Homo sapiens: one gene and its partner. The protein of the gene in region 1 purifies or fractionates together with the protein of each later gene. This does not show direct contact. Each region holds a gene or a part of one and is shown on either strand. Other genes may lie near its edges.

Region 1 (3,912 bases):
TCCACATCCCAAGGGGACCTGTTGGGCAGCCACTTGGTCACACCAACTTTGAGAAGCTGTTCAGTGTGTGTGTGGAGCATGGAGCCAGCCATGGCCACGCTGAGACATGGGTCTGGGAGTGGTGTGAGAACCTGAACCCACCCGCTCCCCTCCAGCCCCTCCAAGACCCCCAGGAGGCATTAGATTTTCATTCCCTCAACAAGGGGGAGACAGTGTCAGAGGCACTGCCTCAGGGTCCCCCAGGCACCTGAACCCTGAGCTCCCAGGAGGGGCCCAGGCTGCAGCTGAGGCTGGCCAGGGTGAGTTCTCCTCGCCTCCCCCGGACCTTAAAGTCGGATTTTAAGAATAAATACATGAACCATAGTGAAAGCGCAGAGCCAACCCTTAGCAATGCTTGGGCAATGGGACATCAAGTCTTGAGCGAGGACAGGGGTCGCCGGGAGCCTGAGTGACATCTCTTCCCAACACTGCCAGGCCCTGTCTGGCCTCAGGCTGTCCCCAGGACTGAGCAGCCGCTGCAGGGCAGGCACCATGGGATTCTCCCCCCACCTCTGGCCCAATCTCACACTGCCCTGGATAGGGCCCACCAGGAGGAAGGATTTGCCTCCCCCAGGCCCGGAATCGGGCCCTTGGTGGCGGCTGAGATGTCCCCAGCAGCCTGCGCCTTCCTCAAGACTTTTTGTCTGCCAGGTCCTGTCTGCCCTATCCGGTGCCTCTCTGGACTTCCTCCGCCACCAGCTGGGCTAGAATTCAGGGCAGCGGCTGGTTCTTGCCTGTCCGTGTCATTCATAAGCCACGGGGGACTTCTGGCCGCCGCCGCCGCGTTCGTGCACCGAGGGCATGGAGGTGCTGGGCGGAAGGAGAGGGGGCGCAGGCCTCTGGCGCCCGAGGTCGGAGGTGCGCTCAAGTTCCGACAGCCGGGGCGGTGGGCGGGCAGGGGGACGACCCCCGTGCTAACCCCCCAGAGCCTGGGCGTCCAGAGCCGTGGGAGTGGCGCCGCGGCCCCCAGCGGCTGGCTCGGGGGCGCGGGGAGAGGCCCGGGCGAGGGGAGCCCAGCTAGGTCCACGGCGGCCGCCGGAGGGGCTCCTGTTCGCCCCCACGGGCGGGCTGGCGGTCGGCCTCGCCGCGAAAGCTCGGGAGTGTTGGACTTTGAGTCAGTTCCCCGCCGCGGGAAGGGTCCGCACGCGCACACTCGCGACGCCGCAAGCACTGGGACCCGGAACCCAGCGCTCCCGGCCCGCGCCCGCCCCAGCGCACTCCTGTGCGGCCCGCGCCGCCCAGCGCCGCGTGACCGCCCATTCCTCCCGGGACCCCCAGCGCCCCGGCCACACCTACCCGAGCCCCGCCCCGCGGTGCAACTCCGCCGTGGCCTGCGGGTGGGCGGGCGGCAGTCGCGTCGCCCCCACCCCGCGCAGCCTTCACCTTGCCGGCATTGGCTCTTACCCACACGGGGCTGGGGGTTTGGAGCGGATTTGTTTTTTTAAACATTTTCCAGCAGACCACATCCCCGCCCCACCGCTGGCTGTCCCCCGCCCCCCGCACATATACCCTGCACACACGCACGCACACACACACACACACCCGGCGCGCACAGACACACGCTCCCTCCCTCCGCGCTCTACCCCTCGCCCGCCCGCCGCGCACGCAGCCGGCCCCGGCTCCCGGCGCCCCGCGCCCCGCGCCCCGCGCCCCGCCACCGCCGCCGCCGAGCAAAGCCGGGCTGGGCTTGGAGCTGCTCATGGAGAAAGTGCCAGGCGAGATGGAGATCGAGCGCAGGGAGCGGAGCGAGGAGCTGTCCGAGGCGGAGAGGAAGGCGGTGCAGGCTATGTGGGCCCGGCTCTATGCCAACTGCGAGGACGTGGGGGTGGCCATCCTGGTGAGGTAGGTGTCGCCCGGCCCGGCCGGGCCCTGGGCAGGGAGGGCGGCAGCGGCTCCGGGCAGAGGAGGGCTGGGCCCGGGTCCGAGCTCCAGCGCCACCTCCCCAGCCGCGAATGGGGCCGGTCCGAGGTCGGCGGAGCAGGCGGCGTGGGGCGCCTTGGGGTGAACGAAGCCTGGGTTGAGCCTTCCCTGGCTCCGGCGCGGTGTTCACCAGGATCTAGGAACCAGATGCAGGAGAGCACCTCGGTCCCCCTCCTCTCCCCGGCCTCAGAACTCCTTGCTCGGCCAGCCACCCCAGACACCCAGCCAAACTGTCAGACACACACATTTTTCTGGCCTTTCAAAGGTAGTATAGCAGGGGCTCCCCATTTTAGAGATGGGAAAACCGAGGCTCAGCCAAGAAGCGGGACAAAGAGGAGCAGAACCCTGTCTCCAGCTCAGCGGCTTGCGGGATTCAAAGCCTCTTGGAAGAACAGAGAGCAAAGAGCAGAGGTTGAGAAAGAGGAGAGCCCGGGGGGTCCAGTGTTCCCAGCTGCCCCCTTCCCGCTGGAGGGCACGGGCCAGCAGGAGCGCCCAGGGCAGGCACAGGTGAGTGGAGAAGCAAACAGTCCCCTAGGATACAATCCCTGCTGAGTTTGGAGGGTGAGGGGAAGAAGAGAGAAGCTTCAGGAGACAGGGCCTAACCCTAAAACCTCCCACCTAGGGAGGAAATGCAGTGGCTTGGGCTTAGGGGTCATTCAGGCACTACATGCCCCCAAGAGACCCACAAACACAGAGCGCCCCGTTCTTCACACACCTAGGCTTAGAGCACACACACCATCCTTATAGAGGTGATGTGTCCAAGTCTCGAAAGCTAGTCACTGACTCTAGCTACAAATCCATGCTCTCTTTCCACACGTGCTGGTCCCTGGGGGTGCAGGCAGAGGAGCCCCAGACCATGCTCACCCTCAAGCCCCTCTTCTTGGCAGAGGAAAGCGGTCAAATCTAGGACAGAGCAGGGCAGCCTTGTCATGTGCAGATGGGGTGAAGCCTCGCTCTGGAAGGGCAGCTTTAGTGCATCCTTGACTACCAGGCCTGCTCCATCTCCAGCTTCTTCTCCCTGTGGCCTCTCCCAAGCCTGGGACCGACCCAGCTCCACCATGATATGCCCTGATTCCAACTCAGAAGCAGATTTTGGAGGAAAAAGAGCAGGAAGCACTTCTAAGGAGTTAGAGGAGCGCTCCTGAGGATGGGGCAGCTATCTCAGCAGCCCCCAAGCCCAGAAACACAGTCGGGAGTGGCAGGAAGCTAAGAGGGACATTGGGATACTAGGGCCTCAGACGCTCGGAACCACCAATCCCCACAGGTGCTGGCACCCACACAAGCACATTGTGGGTAGCAGAGCCGCAGATGTGCCAGACTGCGTCCTCGGAGGGTGCCGTCAGCCGTGTGTCAGCACCTGCAGCCCACCGGCCTTGCATGCGTCTGGCACACTCATGGGTCACCATGAAGAAGCGAGGCAGGGTCCTCAGGACCTTGGAGGTTTTGTGTCCCAACCCCTGCCAGGTACCTGTGCGGATACGTGGAGGAAGTGCTCACCGTCCACATCATGGAACACCATTGAACCTCCCCAGGAAGGGGACCAGGGTAGGGCAGATGCCAAGGGAGAAACGAAACACCGAGGCCAGGGCCATGTCTGGGCAGTCCGAGTTTTCAGCAAGGATTTCTTTCTCTCTCTACACCCCTCTTCCAGTTCCCCACTCCTGTCTCTTAGAGGGGCCTGGGCCTGGGCTGGGGGAGGTCATTACCAATGCACTCAGTGCCCAGAGTAACCCCTCACCACTCTGACTCCACTTCTTTGTGGACTAGAGCCCAGCCCCAGGACAGCCTGGCCCAGCTTTGTCTCAGCCACTCCCTGCCAGCCCAAGCCCCACAGGGCCTTGCTTTCCTTTTTCTCTCCTCCTGTCTCTGTCCAGGGCCTGGTCAGTGGGGGAAGGGGAAGAAAGGGGGATAAGGGCTCCTGAAGGTCCCTTCTCAGATCCTGGGCCCGTCAGT
Region 2 (3,655 bases), on another chromosome or scaffold:
ACAACTTAAGCTGAACTTGCACATACTTTAAAATTGGTAACTGGTTAGCAACAACAAATCAAGGAAGGACCTTAGTGTATCCTCTCCAGATGCAGTAGCACATGTGTCAAGATCAAATTCCCAAAGCAGCAGATAGTGTTACAAAGCAGTGTGTCAGTGCTTGGCAACAGTGGCTACAATCTCCTCACCCGACCAGTTATGCAGTATGGTTCCAGGATTTATTCCCAGCCGTGTGGCTCAGACTGATGCTGATTCTCTAGTCCTTTTGGCCATTCTGCAAGCAGCACAATATTCTTCTAATACAATTTATCTTATGCTGAAAACCAGAATCCATCTCTGTTGCTTACGACTAAGAATCCAAACTGATAGACAATTTGGTATTTGGAAGTGGAGTGCTACAAAACAGACCTAGAATGGTGTGTAATTGGCCGGGTGGAAAAGGCAGGATGGAGGGCATTGAGACACAACTGTTTCGGGCTGGGAAACTAGTGACTCTGAGACAGGACACCAAGCTCACACCATCAAGAAATGTACTCTAAAGCTGAGCAGCCTTAGAAAGAGTCTTCTTCCCAGTGCTCATATTAGATGTGGCTGTTGAGGACAAAACACCAGAGAGCCACAGCCACCAGATGAAAAAGCAGCCTACGGATTCCACCAAAGATCTTTTTTTTTTTTAGAGACATTTATTCAGCGTCACAATCAGACTATTACATTTAGCAATCAACAGCATGGGTGCAAAAAAAAAAATCTACATTAAAACACTTTGTTGGAATGCTTTACACTTTCCACAGAACAGAAACTAAAATAACCTGTTATACAATTAGTCACAAATACAGTCCTCGAGTTTTTTGCCCATACACATGAGTATTTGTCTAAAACATGTCTTCTTTGTAGCAGCTAGGCCCTGCCACCACTGTGCTTGGCTGAGTTCACAAATCTGTTGTAACCTGTAGCTTCCCTGTCACTTCTCTGGCTCTCCTCTCCTGCTAAGCTTTGTTTCCTAATTAAAATCTTCTGCCACTGCCATAGCTACTGCTGCTGCTGGAAACGCCATAGCCACCTTGGTTTTGTGGTTTTGCAAAGTATTGGCCTCCACCGCCATAGGGGCCAGAGCTTCTGCCTCCAAAATTTCCTCCCTTCATGGGTCCAAAATTTGAAGACTGATTGTTGTAATTGCCAAAATCATTGTAGCTTCCACCACCTCCAAAATTGCTTCCATCATTACCAAATCCATTATAGCCATCCCCACTGCCACCATATCCACCACCACCACAGCTGCCACCAAAGCCACCACGACCACTGAAGTTTCCTCCACGACCAAAGTTGTCATTCCCACCGAAACCATCTCCACGACCACCACCAAAGTTTCCAGAACCCCTTCGACCTCTTTGGCTGGATGAAGCACTAGCCATCTCTTGCTTTGGCAGGGCTTTTCTAACTTCACAGTTGTGGCCCTTCACAGTATGGTATTTCTGAATGACAATCTTATCCACGGAGTCATGGTCGTCAAAGGTTACAAAGGCAAAGCCCCTTTTCTTGCCACTGCCTCGGTCAGTCATGATTTCAATTACTTCAATTTTTCCATACTGTTCAAAATAATCTCTTAGGTGATGTTCTTCAGTGTCTTCTTTAATGCCACCAACAAATATCTTTTTCACAGTTAAGTGGGCACCTGGTCTTTGAGAATCTTCTCTGGAGACAGCTCTCTTTGGTTCCACAACTCTTCCATCCACCTTGTGTGGCGTTGTATTCATAGCTGCATCCACCTCCTCCACAGTGGCATATGTGACAAACCCAAAGCCCCTGGAGCGCTTGGTGTTTGGATCTCTCATTACCACACAGTCTGTGAGCGTTCCCCATTGCTCAAAATGGCTCCTCAGGCTCTCATCAGTTGTTTCAAAGCTCAACCCTCCAATGAAGAGCTTCCTCAGCTGTTCGGGCTCTTTTGGAGACGCTGACTTAGACATGACGGCAAGGTGAAGAGAGACTTTAACGATGCTTCTTCAGCGGCGTCCACGGGCAGAAAAAGTCCACCAGAGATCTTAGATATGAAGCTGGATAGAGTATTTGGATGAGATTCTGGCTGATTCTCTTTGGGAAATAAATACATTTTTCATATGGGCCTGAACATTTTTTAGTGTATGTACAGGAAGAAAGACAAGTATACATAACAGTAGGATACTTCATTCCTCCCTTCTTCCTTGCTGTGAAGCCCTAATTTTGTTTCTCCAGCACATGACTAAGTCATTTGTGGTAATCCCACATCCCACATTGTTGGGATCACCAACCCCACATTGTTGGCCATATTGGCAAACAATATGGTTTAAGAAGGGGTATATAACTAATCTAGCCAATTGGGCCATGCATGAGGTGTCTGCTCAGGGATTCTGGGAAAGGTCTCCTTATTGATAAACAGAAACACAGAATAAATTACTGCAGCTACCTTTAGCAATAGCCATCCTGGAAGACCAAACCAATATCCCAAGGAAAGTGAAAGCATAAGGATGGAGAAACCTAGTTCATCAGTGATACCAGTGAGCTCCTGAGTTAACCAACCCAGAAGCCTCCAAACTCCTGACTTTTTGTTTTGTATTATTTAATAATTTTGAGTTGGGTTTTTCTGTTTGCTTCTTGCAATTGAAAACATTCTTATTCTAATTGCTATTATGTCTGGGAGTGCAGAATTTGATCATAAGGCTGGTGAGATAAAGAAGAGGTGAGACCACATAGGGCCTCAACTCCATCTGAAAAGATTTAAAAAACCACTGAAGGCTTGACATAATTAGACTGACACTCCTATTGCACTGGGGAGAACAGATTGGAAGCGGACAAGTTGAAAACAGAGAATAAGAACAGTGACCTTTAGACAAAACTTGGGAGAACTCCAATCTTTGAAAAAGTCTCTGGAGCAACCCAAAGGGAACATCAGGAAATTATTTTTTACATGGTAAAAGGGGGAAAATATTACAGAAGCAGGATAGGACAGTTGGGCACTTCAGATTGGGCAAAACTGAAGGCAATAGAGAGTTTAGAGGAAAAGTGAGTTATGAAAGGTTATCAATTGATCAAGAGGTCCAGGAAGAGAAGGAAGGATGGGATTCAGCAATATGGAAATTGGTTACTCTTAGTGACCTTTGTAACAACAAATTCAGGGTAATAAGTCAAATGCAATACTACAGAGGGTTAAAGAATAAATGGAAAGTGAGGAAGGCAGCAAGTTTACAGGTTAAGGACAATGACAACAGCATCACAGGTCCTTCTTTAATAAACAATCTTGAGTCAATGATTTGGTGTGGAGAGGCCAAGTACTGACAGCCATGTCTTATTCAGGAGTTGATGACTAGATTATGTTAGGGCTACAGAGAGTCAAGATGTAATATCGGGACAGATCATGCTGGTCCTTGTAAACCCTGTTCAGAAGTTTGCATATTCCTTGTAAGAAATGATGGTAACTTAAACTAAGGTAGAAACATGAAGACAAATGACAAATTAAAAGCTTTTGAGGAGGTAAATTACCTGGGCTGCATGATTGATTGGACGTGGATATCAGATGTGACTGAGCCATGGAAGTAAATGAGATTGTCAAAGAAGCATGTGCAGTGGGAAGAGAGCCAAGAAAGGAATCTTAAGAAATACCAGGACATAAGGCAGAGCT

What was found.
Region 2: the proteins of CYGB (region 1) and HNRNPA1L2 purify together in Homo sapiens (affinity purification with mass spectrometry; one large-scale study listed by BioGRID and IntAct). This does not show direct contact.

The regions. Positions count from the first base shown.
Region 1 is NC_000017.11:76,535,369-76,539,280, reverse strand, and holds the start of CYGB (cytoglobin), read left to right. Parts: upstream 1-1,571; 5' UTR 1,572-1,738; coding exon 1,739-1,881; intron 1,882-3,912. UniProt on the Homo sapiens protein: Probable multifunctional globin with a hexacoordinated heme iron required for the catalysis of various reactions depending on redox condition of the cell as well as oxygen availability.
Region 2 is NC_000013.11:52,640,805-52,644,459, reverse strand, and holds HNRNPA1L2 (heterogeneous nuclear ribonucleoprotein A1-like 2), read right to left. Parts: upstream 2,030-3,655; 5' UTR 1,968-2,029; coding exon 1,005-1,967; 3' UTR 687-1,004; downstream 1-686. UniProt on the Homo sapiens protein: Involved in the packaging of pre-mRNA into hnRNP particles, transport of poly(A) mRNA from the nucleus to the cytoplasm and may modulate splice site selection.